2 separate regions of the Homo sapiens genome follow, and region 2 is linked to region 1. Evidence: fine-mapped expression QTL. Tissue or cell type: whole blood. Region 1 holds a variant in brackets; the other region holds the start of a gene. All regions are shown on one strand. Distances are from middle to middle.

What was found. PIP is the estimated chance that this variant, and not a neighbour inherited with it, causes the effect.
Region 2: PARP16 starts here. The variant in region 1 is fine-mapped to the expression of PARP16 in whole blood (TOPMed, PIP above 0.99).

Annotation. Positions count from the first base shown.
Region 1 is chr15:65,123,756-65,131,990 of GRCh38, reverse strand. It overlaps PDCD7 (programmed cell death 7), which reads left to right. Exons shown (of 5, transcript NM_005707.2): 2 at 2,821-2,959. Among named protein-coding and RNA genes, the nearest start is that of PDCD7, 5.9 kb to the left of the region's middle. The variant C/T (reference allele first, on the strand shown) is at 3,446.
Region 2 is chr15:65,283,840-65,291,839 of GRCh38, reverse strand. PARP16 (poly(ADP-ribose) polymerase family member 16) reads left to right here and starts at 4,957. Exons shown (of 6, transcript NM_001316943.2): 1 at 4,957-5,587. The coding sequence starts at 5,414. SNORA24B (small nucleolar RNA, H/ACA box 24B) reads left to right here and starts at 6,249; the gene lies at 6,249-6,379. RefSeq lists an enhancer at 4,513-4,562 and a silencer at 4,713-5,272.

The sequences.
Region 1 (8,235 bases):
TTTGAATCTTTATAACAGCCTTGAGAAGTAGGAAGTATTATGCTAATTTTACAGGTTAGGAAGTTGCATAGAGAGGTTAACTTGCCAACAGTCACACAACGAGTTTGTGGCAGTTTCCCATATTTGATCCCAAGTTGTCTAATTCCAAAGCGTATTGATCTCAGACTCTTTAAGCAGGGCCAGGGTAAAACTGGAAATTGTTCAGATGGTTTTCTAAGGCATTTTCTTTCTTTCTTTTTTTGAGATGGAGTTTCGCTCTTGTTGCCCAGGCTGGAGTGCAATGGCATGATCTTGGTTCACCACAACCTCCACCTCCCGGGTTCAAGCGATTCTCCTGCCTCAGCCTCCCGAGTAGCAGGGATTACAGGCATGCACCACTACACCCCAGCTAATTTTGTATTTTTAGTAGAGACAGGGTTTCTCCATGTTGGTCAGACTGGTCTCGAACTCCTGACCTCAGGTGATCCACCCGCCTCAGCCTGCCAAAGTGCTGGGATTACAGGCGTGAGCCACTGCACCTGGCCGTCTAAGGCATTTTCATTACCTTTGATTGCCTCTGGGGTTCCCTTTCCTCTTCCTCATTATTTCTATTATTATTACATTATAATACATAATGAAATAATTATACAACTCACCATAATGTGGAAACAGTGAGAGCCCTGAGATTGTTTTCCTGCAACTAGACAGTCCCATCTGGGGGTGATAGGAGACAGTGACAAATCATCAGGCTTTAGATTCTCATAAGGAGCCCACAACCTAGATCCCTTCCATGCGCAGTTCACTTCTTTGTGCTCCTATGAGAATGTAATGCTGCTGTTGCTGATCTGACAGGAGGCGGAGCTCAGGTGGTAATGCAAGCAATGGGGGAGTGGCTGTAAATGGAGATGAAGCTTCACTTGCTCGCCTGCCTCATCTTTTGCTGTGTGATCTGGTTCCTAACAGGCCATGGACTGGTTACCATCCGTGGCCTGGGGTTTGTTGACCCCTGGCTTAGAGATCTGTGGGAGATCATGTCAGTATAGCGTGGTGTGTGTTAGGAATTCAACTATAGGTGCTGTAAAAGCCCAAAGAAGGAACATCTGATTTACTGAGGGAATGCTTCCCAAATGATACAATGACACGTAAGCTGAGTCTTTTTTTTTTTTTCTGAGACAGAGTCTCGCACTGTTGCCCGGACTGAAGTGCAGTGATGCCGTCTTGGCTCGCTGCAACCTCTGCCTCCCAGGTTCAAGCGATTCTCCTGCCTTAGCCTCCAGAGTAGCTGGGATTACAGGTGCACACCACCACTCCTGGCTATAAGCTGAGTCTTAAAGGAAAAGTCACCCAGGTGAAGGTAATAGGTGCAGTTCCAGGGAAACAGAGTAATCCAAATGGAGAAGTGAAACAGCTTGGTGTTGGCTGTAGCTGTAGTGGTGGAATTACAGGCACTTATTTGACAGATGGGGGAGAGCACTTTAGGCAAGAGGATTCTCTCCACCACCCATGGTGAACTTTTTATTTTATTTATTTTATTGTTTTAAGGAGACAGGGTTGGGGCTGGGCGCCGTGGTCATGCCTGTAATCCCAACACTTTGAGAGGCCAAGGCGGGCGGATCACCTGAGGTCAGGAGTTCGGGACCAGCCTGGCCAACGTGGTGAAACCCTGTCCCTACTAAAAATACAAAAAATTAGCTGGGCATGGTGGCAGGAGCCTGTAAACCCAGCTAATTGGGAGGCTGAAGCAGGGAATCGCTTGAACCCAGGAGGCGGAGGTTGCAGTAAGCCGAGATCGCGCCATTGCCCTCCAGCCTGGACAACAGCGAGACTCCATCTCAAAAAAAAAAAAAAAAAAAAAAAGAGGGTTGGGGGCGGGTGCGAAGTGGCTCACTCCTGTAATCCCAGCATTTTGGGAGGCTGAGGCAGGCAGATTACTTGAGCCCAGGAGTTCCAGACCAGCCTGGGCAACATGGAGAAACCTCGTCTCTACAAAAAACACAATTAACTGGGCATGGTGATGCTGTGATCACACCACTACACTCCAGCCTGGGCAACAGAATGAGACCCTGTCTCAAAAAAAAAAAAAAAAAAAAAAAAAATACAAAGTTTCACTCTGTTGCCCAGGCTGGAGTGCAGCGGGTTTGTCATAGCCTGTAGGTTTGAACTCCTGGTCTTAAAGTGATCCTCTCGCCTTAGCCTCCTGAGTAGGAATAGCTAGGGACACATGCCATTATGCCCAGCTTCCATGGTGAGGATATTGGTGACAGAGTCTTATGAGGAGTGGCTTGAGGAACTGGGGTTATTTAGTCTATATGTGAACTAAGTCAAGAGTAGGACAGCAATCTTTGGTATTTGAAAGGCTGTCATGTGGAAGAGATCCTTGGGACTTTAGAGCAGTGGAACACAAACATAGGTTGTCACTAAGAGACCTTTGTAGAGGTCTCAGCCTTTCCAGCCACATTCCTTATCCTTCCTGGGAATCTGAATCTTCAGGTCTAGGGAATCTGCATTTTTAACAAGTCTCAGCTTAACAAGGTAAGTTGGACACCTGATCTCTGCACTACACTTTGAGAAACACTGAGGAAGAAACAAAACCAGTGCTATGTGGAAGATACAGAGAGGAGAGGTTCTCCTTTAAGATGAAGGTTGTACCATCAGTGGAGGGGGATAACCTCTTAGCTAGAGGGGAGTTGTGCAAGGCCTAAGAAATTGGGATGGAGATTCAATAGAGTCTCTCTTAACCTGGAGACTGTCTGATCCTTTAAAATCTAACCACTGGGCAGCTATTCTCTGCTGTAAGTTTGTTCCTAATACGAGGTCTCATGGGCTTTGTTTCTCTTCCAGGAGCAGGAACTCAAAGCAGCCGCTGATGGCGTACTATCTGAAGTGAGGAAAAAACAAGCAGATACCAAAAGAATGGTGGACATTCTACGGGCTTTGGAGAAATTGAGGAAACTGAGGAAAGAGGCTGCAGCGAGGAAAGGTAACTGTGGCTTTGCATTTCTTTCCTTGTTCCCTTCCCCTTCTTTACTCTAGCTCCTCCCACCCCAAATATTATTGAGGGAAAAATACTTGAAACTTCATGATTTTCACCTTGTCGGGTAACTGGGCTTGTCAGCAAGTAGGTCAGAACTTCTGAAGCAGGAAGCCTCAGAAGATGTTTAGCCTGTGGTAGCCCAGATTGAAAAGAGAGGCAAGTGTGGGAACCCACTGCACTGTCTTCCCCTTGACTTATCATTCCTACCCTGGGCATTTCTGGCCACACTCTTCTGAGTGGGCTTGTCATGGCTAGTCACCTTTGCCTTGTGCCAGAGTGAAAGCTTTTCACCCTTACTTGTTGCTCCAGAAAGTGTTGAAAACTTGGCATGCTTCTTCAGATACATTTCAAACCTGAATTATTTCTATTTGAAGAGGTATGAATGGTTGGACAGGGCAGGGATTGCAGACTGTGTGGATTTCCCCACCTTCC[C/T]TTCATGTCACTGGTCTCTTCTTGCCTCTGGAGGAAGCACCAGACACTATAGCCAGGCAGTTCAAGCTTCTCCACCGAAGTTTGTTTCAACCATGCTGGCTTTCTAGAAGTTACCCAATTGTGCTTTCCATTTGCCTGTCTGGATCTTAGCTGTTGTCATTCTGTTCATCTGGAGGGCCCTCAGTCCCATCTTTGCCATTTTAAGATCTCACTATTCAAAACCAAATACACATGCAGCATCCTTCATCCTTCCCTGATCTGGGCTGAGGTAACCTCCTGTTGCTTCTCACTTGCACCTGCTTTGGACCACATGCTGATTTATTTAGTAGATTGTAGGCCTTTGGTATTCACCAGAGATATTTGAGAGTGTACAAATTAGCAAATGCCACTCTAACAAATGATTTCCCATGTGTTGTTTAAAATGTAAATGAAAACTGGGATTCTTTTAGACCCTTAAGAAAGTTGTGTTGGAATATGACCATTTTGTATTCACCCAGGCTCGTTTGCTAGCTAAGTGATTGGCTTTTGCATACTAGCCTTCAGAGCGGCTAATTCACATCCAGACCTCAGAAACAGATGCCTCCATTGTGGTACTCTCAGGGCATTTGTAAATCAGAGGGAAGTTAGCATCTGCTTTGTCTACCCATCTCTTTTTCACTAGAAGGCAAAACCTGAGAGCTATTTAATATTCCCACACCTCACATCCTCTATGAGGTGAGTGCTCAGTAAACTTCTGCCAAGTGAATTTACCAGCATTTCCCAATATTAATCTTCCTCACTTTGGTCCAAAAGGAGGAGGAAATTTTAGGAAAATCATTATCTATAGAAATAAACAGACTTTGTGGCATTAAGTGACTTGAATGTAAAATGATTTGGTAAGTAGCAGCTGGTTGCATGCATATTTAAAATGAGCAGCTAACTTCTCTCTTCAAGATGTGTGCACCTCCAACTAAGTGCTGAATGATGAGGCTGGATGTTTAAGCAGGACCACGTTGCAAATTGTCTTATGGGCTATGCTAGAGTTCTCACTTATACTTAAAGCTTTGGGGAACCGCTGAAAGTTTTTTTTTTTTTTTTTTTTTGAGACGGAGTCTCGCTCTGTCGCCCAGGCCGGACTGCGGACTGCAGTGGCGCAATCTCGGCTCACTGCAAGCTCCGCTTCCCGGGTTCACGCCATTCTCCTGCCTCAGCCTCCCGAGTAGCTGGGACTACAGGCGCCCACCACCGCGCCCGGCTAATTTTTTGTATTTTTAGTAGAGACGGGGTTTCACCTTGTTAGCCAGGATGGTCTCGATCTCCTGACCTCATGATCCACCTGCCTCGGCCTCCCAAAGTGCTGGGATTACAGGCGTGAGCCACCACGCCTGGCCCCGCTGAAAGTTTTTAAGTGAAATGATGGCAAAGATCAGTGCCAGTAGAGCAGAGAAAGTTTTGGAGCATCCAGGAGAGAGAGAGAAGGGCAGAGAGATGGGTAAGGCTATTGGGCACGGGTAGTATGGAAGCATAAGCTGAGTGACGTCAGTGTGTAGGAGAATTGAGAGGTAATGAGTAATTCAAGTGATAGTGAATAATTGAGTAATTCAGAATTATTAGTGAATAATTCTCAAGTCAAAGAATTGAGAGATAATGAATAAAGGTATATGTGTATATACCCATGTACATATAAATAAATAATTTAAGGAACTCAGAGTACAGGAACTAAAGGGAAAAACAATGAAATGTCTTCCAGATTCTAGCCTCATCTACTGAATAAGTGAAGATAGCTTTTTTTTTTTGCTTTTTTTTTTTTTAAAAGACAGGGTCTTGCACTGTCGCCCAAGCCGAAGTGCAGTGGTGCAATCATAATTCACTGCAGCCTTATACTCCCAGGCAGGAGCGATCCTCCCACCTCAGCCTCCTGAGTAGTAGAGACTACAGGTGCACACCACCACACCTGGCTAATTTTTAAATTTTTTGTAGAGATAGAGTTTCGCCATGTTGCCCAAGCTGGTCTCGAACTCCTGGGCTCAAGCGATTCTCCCATCTTGGCCTCCCAAAGTTCTAGGATTAAGGGTGTGAGCCACTGTGCCTGGCCGATACCATTCTAATTAAGAAGGAAAACAAGGGAGGAGGAACAGGTTTAGGGTTGACAAGTTCAGTTGGGGACCTGTCGAGTTTGAGGTGTGTGTGGTACATCCTGGATAAGAGTTCATTAGCATGTAGCCATGAGTCAGAATGACCTTAAGGAGATTGTACAGCATGAGATGAGGGCCAAAAAGACAAAATCATAGGGAATGTCAAAATCAAGGTAGAAGATGAAGAGAGCAAAAAAGAGACCAAGAGAGGTCAGAGAGATGGGAGGAAAAGATAGACTCCCTGCTTCCTTCTGGAAAGTGGCAAGTGCTTAGAGAGAGATTGTGTAGTCTTGGTGATATGGTTTGGCTGTGTCCCCACCCAAATCTCATCTTGAATTGTAGCTCCCATAATTCCCACATGTCGTCGGAGGGACTTGGTGGGAGGTAATTGAATCATGGGGACAGGTCTTTCACATGCTGTTCTTGTGATCATAAGTCTCATGAGATCTGATGGATTTATAAAGGAGAGTTTCCTTGCACACGCCCTCTTTACCTGTCACCATGTAAGATATAACTTTGCTCCTCCTTCACCTTCCGCCATGATTGTGAAGCCTCCCCAGCCATGTAGAACTGTGAGTCAATTAAACCTCTTTTATAAATTACCCAATTTCAGGTATATCTTTATTGGCAGCGTGAGAATAGATTAATACACTTGGACAGGTTACTTGAGCTTCTCTGAACCTTTGTTTCCTCATCTGCAAAAAGGGAGTAATGATAGTACCTACCCATGGGGTGTCGTGAGGATTAAATTAATAAATATGTGTAAAGTACTTAAAACAGTCCTGGCACATAGTAAATGCTATATACATGTTTCATATTATTATTCTTTTTATTATCAAGAAATAAGGAACATCCATGGGAATTAGTATCCAACCGGTCATTAGTGACCTATGCTAGGGGCATTTCAGTGGAGTGGTGGGGGTAGAAGCCAGACTACAGTTGGTTAGAGAATGAATATGATACAAGAAAAGCAAACAGATAATTCAACTTATTAAAAGATTGCCTGTGAAGAAAAGGAAAGAGCAACATCAGTATCTGGCAAGGTGTGTGGTAGTGGTGATGGTGAGGGGTGTTGTGTGTCTTTGGGTCATGGGGAAAACTTAAGCATGGTTAAAATTGCTGAGAGGAGTGAGTAGAAGGGGAAGGGTCAAAGAGAAGCAGGAAGAATAGTTGATGGCTCAAGGTCCCATGGAAGGTAGGATGATTCAGATCCCAGGTGGAGGGATTAACTTAAGTGAAGAAGGACCCATCTTACACAAGCATGAAAATGAAGGAGATGAAGATAGGTAGTGATGCACATGAGTGTGTAAATGGGGACAGATATTTGAGGGATTTCCTGTCTGCTGGCCTGTTTTCTCTGGGAAACAGGGTAAATGGTTTGCTGAGCGCCAGTAGACAAGTGGGGCTTTAGGAGAGCAGTGAAGGTTTGATTTAATTGCTGTGAAGAATGGGTGAGAGCCAACAGAGACTTGTGGAAGATGGTTGCAGGGGGTGCTATGGGTCCAGCTGACATATATTGGCAATGGATGACACAATCAAATGACCTCTTCCAGTAGTACTGTAGCTGACAGGTGAGCACAGAGCACGGGGCTGTTGGGGTTTTGCTTTGTGGGGTGACCATTAGTTTTGTGGCGAAGGAGTAGCAGAAGGATAGAATCTGATACATCAGGTCCGGAGGTTTTGATGAAGCTGCCAAATGGGTCTCTGGGGAGAAGGAAGTAAAAGTACTATAAGGGAGAAAGTTGTAGTTGGATAAGAGAATAATCAAGTTTAAGATTTAAGAGGCAGAAAGTTTTTTCTGATAATGCCAAGGTCCACAGACTGAACAGGACTGCAGGCATGTGGCTAAAGGGGAATAGAGGCAAAGGCATTGGTGTCTAGGAGCTGCAGGACTAGGTGGACAGTGAGTGGTAGAAGTGGAGGGAACCTAGATGGTGCCAGGAGGAAGACTGTGTGAGAAGTGCTGTTTCTTTTTCTTTTTCTTTCTTTCTTTCTTTTTTTTTTTTGAGACGGAGTTTCACTCTTGTTGCCCCTGTTGGAGTGCAGTGGTGCAATCTCGGCTCACTGCAACCTCCACCTCCCAGGTTCAAGCGATTCTCCTGCCTCAGCCTCCAGAGTAGCTGAGATTACAGGCATGCACCACCACACCCAGCTAATTTTTGTATTTTTTTTAGTAGAGATGGGGTTTCACCACGTTGGTCAGGCTGGTCTCAAACTCCTGACCTCAGGTAATCTACCCGCCTCAGCCTCCCAAAGTGTTGGGATTACAGGTGTGAGCCACCACTCCCGCCCCAGGAGTGCCATTTCTGAGGGAATATGTTACATTGACCAGGGAGTGATCAGTGAGGGGCCGAGAGAGATGTGGGTTGGTGGCCCAGGCTCAGCAGCCTACATCTCTTCATGGGGTCTTTAGGCTAACATAGGATGATGGAGTATCTGTGTATTTCGCCATAGACAGATTTTAGTAGTTGCAACAGAGACTGTATGGCTTACAAAATCTAAAATATTTACCTGTAAAGGTAAAGAAATGAAACAAAACCGTTAGATTATTATAAAACAGAGTGACAGCTTAAATTTGTCAGTGTATAAGAATTTTGTGTATACTTGAAAAACACTGGCCTGGCAACTTAGTAGAAGATAAATTTGAGTTGTAGTGTTTCTGTAGTTGAGAATGAG
Region 2 (8,000 bases), 160 kb before region 1:
CAGCCTGGTGACAGAGCGAGACTCCATCTCAAAAAAGAAAAAAACAACAGATATACAGTTGACCCTTGAACAACATGGGGGGTTAGAGTTGCCGACCCCTCTCGCAGTTGAAAATTTGCATGTAACTTTTTTTTTTTTTTGGTGGGGAGATGGGGTCTCACCGTGGTCCAAGCTGGAGTGCAATGGCTTGATCTCGGCTCACTGCAACCTCCGCCTCCTAGGCTCAAGCGATTCTCCTGCCTCAGCCTCCTGAGTAGCTGGGACTACAGGCATGTGCCACCACGCCCAGCTAATTCTTGTATTTTTAGTAAAGACGGGGTTTTGCCATTTTGGCCAGGCTGGTCTAGAACTCCTGGCCTCAAGTGATCCGCCCGCCTCGGCCTCCGAAAGTGCTGAGATTACAGGCATGTGCCACCATGCTGATGCATATAACTTTTGACTCCCCCTAAACTTAACTACAAATAGTCTACTGTTGACCGACAGCCTTACAGATAACAGTTGATTAACACATATTATGTGTGTTAAACGTATTATATACTGTATTCTTACTACAATGAGGTAGAGGAAGGAAAATGTTATTAAAGAAGAAGAGAAAATAGGCTGGGCATGGTGGCTAACACCTGTAAACCCAGCACTTTGGGAGGCCAAGGCAGAAGGACCACTTGAGGCCAGGAGTTCAACACCAGCCTGTTCAAGATTTTGTCTCTACTGAAAAAGAAAAAGAAGAAAGAAAAAAAAATTGCTGGGGATGGCATCATGCATCTATATAGTCCTAGCTACTCAGGAGGCTGAGGCACGAGAATTGCTTGAACCTGGGAGGCAGAGGTTGCAGTGAGGTCACACCACTGTACTCCAGCCTGGTGACAGAGTGAGACCTTGTCTCAAAATATATATATATATATATATTTACTATTAAAAAACCCCACTAAATAAACAAAAAGAACATATATTTACTATTCATTAAGTGGAAGTGGGTCATCGTAAAAGTCTTCCTCATTGTCTTCACGTTGGGTATGTTGAGGACAGGGAGGAGAGGTTGGTTTTACTGTCTGAGGAGTGGCAGAGGAGGAAGAGGTGGAGGTAGAAGGGAGGCAGGCATACTCGCTTTAGTTTCAGTGCCCATGTCATAGAAGGGTCCACGTTGTAAAAGCAGTCTTGAATACTAGGAACACTTCCGCCAGATTGTCTAATGTCAGTTGTTCTCCGGCACTGCGTCTTCTACATCATCTTCATCGTCTTGCACTGGTTCGAAGGCACTCATCTCCACCAAGTCATCTATTCGTTCCTCTAGTGTGACATCTAGTAGCCCTTGGATTTCTCCAAGATTCATATCTTGAACCCTTCACCCCACACACATCTCTTTTGCATATCCACAATCTCTTTCTTGATTTCCTTGACAGTCTCTGTCATAAATCTCGTGAAGTCATGCACAACATCTGCACACAATTTTTCTCCAGCATGAATTTATTGTTTCAGGTTTGATGGCCTTCACATGTTTTTCTACAACATCTTCAATGGTGTAATCCTTCCAGACGTTCATGATGTTCTCTTGGTTGAGGTCCTCTCCCATAGTGTTGACGATCCCTTCCATAGAGTACTGGGTGTAATAAGCATTAAAGATTCTTATGACCCCGTGATCTAGAGGATGAATTACAGACATCGTCCCTATTCAGAGGCAAGTAGACCACTTGCACCTTCAGTGTTGAACTCGGGGTTCCGGGTGGCCAAGAACATTGTCCAATATCAAAAGAACTTGAAAAGCTCCTGCTGGCCGGGCATGGTGGCTCACGCCTGTAATCCCAACACTTTGGGAGGTTGAGGCAGGTGGATCACTTGAGGTTGGGAGTTCGAGACCAGCTTGGCCAACATCATGAAACCCCATCTCTACTAAAAATATAAAAATTAGCGAAGCGTGGCGGCACACACCTGTAATCCCAGCTACTCGGGAGGCTGAGGCAGGATAATTGCTTGAACCTGGGAGGTGGAGGTTACAGTGAGCCAAGATCAAGATCGCACCACTGCACTCCAGCCTGGGCAACAGAGCAAGACTCCGTCTCAATAAATAAAAGGCAGCTCCTTACTGGCAAGATATAATACTTCCTGACTTCAAGGACAAAGCATTCAACCAATCCAGAGGAAGGGTTCTTCTTGTCCAGGCCTTCTTGTTGTACCAAGAGTGGCAGCTTGTGTTTATCTTTTCTCTTCAAGGCTTGGGGGTTATCAGCTTTACAGATAAGGGAAGTTCTGATAATAAACCTGACCAAATTTGCACAGAACAATAGTCAGCCTATCCCTTTCTGCCTTAAATCCTGGTGCTCGATTTTCTTCCTTACTAATAAGTGTCTTTTGTGGCATCTTCTTTCAGAATAGGGCATGTTCATCGGCATTAAAAACCTGTTCAGGTGGATATCTTTCCTGTCAGTGATTTTTTTTTTTTTTTTTTTTTTTTTTTTGGGAGATGAAATCTTACTCTGTCACCCAAGCTGGAGTGTAGTGGCATGATCTCAACTCACTGCAACCTCCGCCTCCCAGGTTCAAACAGTTCTCGGGCTTCAACCTCCCGAGTAGCTGGGGCTACAGGCACGTGCCACTATGCCTGGCTAATTTTTGTATCTTTATTAGAGACAGGGTTTAACCATAGTGGCCAGGCTGGTCTCGAACTCCTGACCTCAGGTGATTTGCCCACTTCGGCCTCCCAAAGTGCTGGGATTACAGGTGTGAGCCACGTGCCTGGTCCCCACTTTCAATAATGAATAGAATAAACAGAAGATCAACAAGGAAATCTAAGATTTGAAAACAATATAAATCAACTAGACCTAACAGACATCCATAGAACACTTGACCTAACAGCAGCAGAATATATACATTCACATGAAACATTCTCCAGGATAGGCCATATGCTAGGCAATAGACAAACCTCAATGAATTTAAAAGGACAGGAGTAAACAAAATGTGTTCTCTAAGCCAGGTGTGGTGGTGTGAGCCTGTAGTCTGAGGTACTCTGGAGGCTGAGCCGGGAGGATCATTTGAGGCCAGAAGTTCTAGGCTGCAATGTGCTATGATCATGCTTGTGAATAGCCACTGTGCTCTAGCCGAGGTAACAGTGAGGCCCAGTCTCTTAAACAAAAAACAAACATGTTGGTGATTGCTTAGGAGTGGGCGACATGGTAGGGTGGGTAGAGCATTGATAGACTAGGTGTAGAGAGTTCCTTTCTGAGGTGATAAAAATATTCTAAAATTGATTGTGACAGTTTCACATATCTGTGAATGTACTAAAAACTATTAAATTGTACACTTTAAATGGGTGAATTGTATGGTCTGTGGATTATATCAAATTTATATAAGCAGGGCTGAAACCCCTCCACAAGAAATGTGGTTCTGAGACCACCTTAGCAAATTCTGATAAAATCTAGAAGAATAAAGTAAACATAAGAACATTCAGTTTCACTATCAAGTAAATGCAAATTAAAACTATAATGAAATTCAACTTTGTGTCTATGGAATTGACAAGAATTAAAAAGAATTCTAATATTCTGCATGAGCTAAGTCATGAGAATGCTGGCCATCAGAGGCCCTTCCACACCACCCTGTGATGTGAATATTATCACTATGATTCTCATATCATATGTGACAAATATCTTCAGATAAGCAAATTTTATATATCCACCCAACAAACAATTCTTGAGGCCAAGGAGGTATCAGAGGGTGGCTTTTGTCTAAGGGCCTGCAATGAAGAAGAGGTGGAATGAGAGATGGTTCCCTGGTCTCCTGACCCACTCCAAGCTCTCCCTTCCTGGGGTCTGAGCTTCAGAAGCCACCTTAGAGTTCCTGGGTCCTATGAGAACCCCCATGGCTTTTGAAGCACTAGGGGCCTTGTGGTTCTAGGCCTCAGAGCAAACAGATTTGATGTGGGCTCCTGGGAGCAGCCCCCAACCTTTACCTGGCAAAAGAAGATGGGAAGCTCTGTGGTGTCTGGGGGACCAGTCTTCGCCCTACCTCCCGAAGTCATAGATGCAATCCAATGGCATGGGACCACCTCTCCTCTGAGTCCAGGGCCCAGCACAGCCTGGATGCAGAAGGAGAAGTTTCTTCCTCAGAAGATCCTGCAGGGTAGGAGTGTGTGCGGTGTGTTGGTTTAAGCACAATGGTCTGTGTTTAGATTTGCATGTGACCATGAGGTCACACTTTGGGGTTTTCTCTAATGAAGGTTCTGAGTAGGGAGAGGGGATGGGAGTCTAGTCCTTACCCTCCAGCAGAGTTAAGTCAATGCCCCTCTGCTCTCCCCCAAGCTCCCTGTCAGAGAGGTCTCCCAAGGAGGATCTTGGGGCATTTGAGGCCAGAGACTTAAGCAATTCAGAGAATTCTGGAGGCTGAAAAGCAGAGGAAAAGTCTTTTGGTTTTCCAAAGATCTCGGTGTGAATCCTAGATTTACCCATCTGGCTGTGGGATCTTGGGCAAGCATTGCAGCACTCTAAGCCTCAGTTTCCCTGGGTGTTAAATGGCTCCTTCTGTGCAGTTTTGGAGGGAAAAGATTCAAGAGAGACAATAGGTAGCATTAATACCCCAAGGAAGAGAGGTAGGCTCAGTCCGCAGAGCTGGGACAAAGACAAGTACAGGGGCGGGTCGAGAGGGTGCCCACATCAATTTCTACCAGGGCTGCTGCTGCTGTGAGGATGGCTGGCAGGGGCGTGGGCGACGTCGCCCGGCACACACTGGCGGCGGCAACTCTCGTAGCTGCGGGTGATCGGGGTCTGGGAGGGGCGGGCACAACCCGTACGGTGGAGCTGGCTGGGGCGCGAAGGGGCGGGCCCTCGGCTGGGCCGGGCGGAGCGCGGCGGCGGGAGGGGAGGTAGGCCGGGCAAGGCAAGCGGACGTGAGCTGCAGGCGGAAGACAGGTGGCGCCGCGGGCAGCTTGGCGAGAGGCGGGACTTCGGCGGCGCGGCGGGAGGCGGGGCAGGAAGGCGCGCGCGGCGCAGCAGCCTCGCCCGTCGCGGAGAGTGGGCTCTGCCCGCCGTCCCCCGGGGGCTGCTTCCCGCCCCAGGCCTCCGCGGAGGACACGTGTCAGCACGTTCCCGCGGTTGTCATTCCATTGTCATAGCCCTTCCCCTAGGCCGGGAACCCCTCCCCCCCACCAGCCCCAGTTCCTTTATCCCTGGGCCCAACCTCCCCGCCGACCCGCGGTCCAGGCCTCGGTCTCTCTCTTCGGCGGCGAGCCGCGGCCCAGACCCCGGCAGAGGACACTTGTCGGCACGTTCTCACCCCTGTCATCTCAGCCCCCTGCCTAGCTCCACCCCAGGCTTGGGAACCCGGCCCCTGACGGCCCATTGTCCGCGGGCCCAGCCCCCGCGCTGAACGCACGCTCGCCCTTGCCCCTAACCAGCGCGTCTACCCCGGCAACGCGCAGTGACCTGGGATGCAGCCCTCAGGCTGGGCGGCCGCCAGGGAGGCGGCGGGCCGCGACATGCTGGCCGCCGACCTCCGGTGCAGCCTCTTCGCCTCGGCCCTGCAGAGCTACAAGCGCGACTCGGTGCTGCGGCCCTTCCCCGCGTCCTACGCCCGCGGCGACTGTAAGGACTTTGAAGCCCTGGTGAGTGTGCTTTGTCCTGGCGCTGCCCACTGCGTCCTGGACCAAGTGCCCTGTGGAACCACAGGTAGAGGCAGTTCCATCCGCATTAGTAAACATGACAGCCGCCAGACTTTCCATTCCCAGCTTGGTCTTGCCTTGCCTTGGGGAAGGTTTCCATGAGCTAAGAACACTGCTAACACCCTCATGTCAACGCTCACTCCCAAGGCACTTGGTGGCTGCTTCTCTCCTGTCAATGACAAATGACTCCGAGGACTGAAGTGAGGAATAGTTGCATAGTCCTCCACAGATTTTCTAGCCTGGCCAGGAATAGGGTTGATGTGAATCAGCTGTTTTGCTTAGCTAGAAAGTTATCCATCCTTTTGCAAATAATTAGACACCAAAAAGTCACCAAAGCCGCCCAGACATTGGTCTTCAGATGAGGTGATCTATGGGCAGTACTTTTATAAACTGTAACATCCAGTACATATGTAAGCTGTTATTTCTCTGATTCACCAGGCACTTTTTTTGCAGAGTTCACCTCTGGGTCAGCATTCAAGATATCAGTTATCCTTATAATCCAAATGTTTGGAATTGCCTAGAAAAATATAACTTACCAAAATCGATTCAATAAAAAGCAGAAAATTGAAATCGCCAATAGCTGATATTCATTAAAGACACTGAACTCCATGTATCTTTGGGACCTGTCAAGTGTGGCAGTCTCCCTTCCTTGCCATGGAAGAGCATATTCTTGTTTACCAGCAAAGCTGTCACCATTTAATTGGTATCAGATTCTGACTTGCACAAGTAACATTCTTCACTGTTAAAAACTTGGAGGGGCCAGGCTCGGTGGCTCATGCTTGTAATCCCAGCACTTTGGGAGGCCAAGGCGGGCAGATTACCTGAGGTTGGGAGTTCAAGACCAACCTGACCAACATGGAGAAATCCCGTCTCTATTAAAAATACAAAAAGTTAGCCGGGCGTGGTGGCGCATGCCTGTAATCCCAGCTACTCTGGAAGCTGAGACAGGAGAATCGCTTGAACCCGGGAGGCGGACGTTGTGGTGAGCCGAGATTGCGCCATTGCAGTCCAGCCTGGGCAACAAGAATGAAACTCCATTAAAAAAAAAAAAAAAACCTGGAGGGTGCCAGGTTATTGGGCGAACTTTTCTAGACTATTGTAGAAAAAGAAGAAAAAGGCTGAGTGGCTCATGCCTGTAATCCCAAGGACTTTGGGAAGGCAAGGCAAGAGGATCGTTTGAGACCAGCCTAGGCAAAAAAGATTTCTTTAAATTAGCTGAGTGTGGTGATGCACGCCTGTAGTCCCAGCTACTTGGGAGGCTGAGGCGGGAGGATGGCTTGAGTCCAAGAGGTCGAGGCTGCAATGAGCTGTAATCACACCACTGCCCTCCAGCCTGGGCAACACAGCAAGTCTCTCTCTCAAAAAAAAAAAAAAAAAAAAAAAAGACGTTGGATTAGTAGTCAAGGATTTTCCCTCAAAGAAAACTCTGGACGTAGCTGGTGTCATTGGTGAGTTGTAGCAATCACTGAGGGAATAAGTAATTCCCAGTTTTACACAGAGTATTAAAAAAGAGGCTAGCATAACCTTGACCCTAAATCTGATAAGGGTGATACAAAAAAAGAAAATTATAGGCCGAGTGCGGTGGCTCACACCTGTAATCCCAGCACTTTGGGAGGCTGAGGCGGGTGGATCACGAGGTCAGGAGTTCAAGACCAGCCTGGACAATATGGTAAAACCCTGTCTCACCATTATGGTGGTGCATGCTGGTAATCCCAGCTACTCAGGAGGCTGAGGCAGGAGAATTGCTTGAACTGGGACCTGGGAGGCAGAGGTAGCAGTGAGCCGAGATCGCCCCACTGCACTCCAGCCTGGGCAACAGAGCAAGACTGTCTCAAAAAAAAAAAAAAAAAAAAAAAAAGAGGAAAGAAAATTATAGGCCAATGTCATGAGTATGAATGCAAAAATTATCTTCAAGGTATTAGGATCTTAAAGCTAGCAATGTATAAAAAAGGGTAATTCCTTATGACCAGGTTGGGTTCATCCCAGGAATGCAAAATTAGTTCAATATTAGGCAATCAGTTAATGGCACGAACCACATTGATAGATTAAAGGAGGTATTTAGAATCAACACGTGTTTAGCGTTATCTCTGATGAAATCATCAGTGTTTGGTTCCTCCTTTGCTATCATTCCTAGGAGGTTGAGGGACAAAGGCTGAGCCTCTTGGCCCAACCTGGTCCTGGTAGCCCACCTAATGATGTGTCGAGGGCATCTCAAGTGGTGACCACAGTGCACAGGCGTTTCAGGGTACCGGAAGTGGGAGGTTGGAGAAAGAGGCAAATTGACTGACTTCCCTCGAGATTTGTTCTTGCAGGTTCAGATACTCAATTTTCTGAGTGTGGTGTATCAGGACCTTGG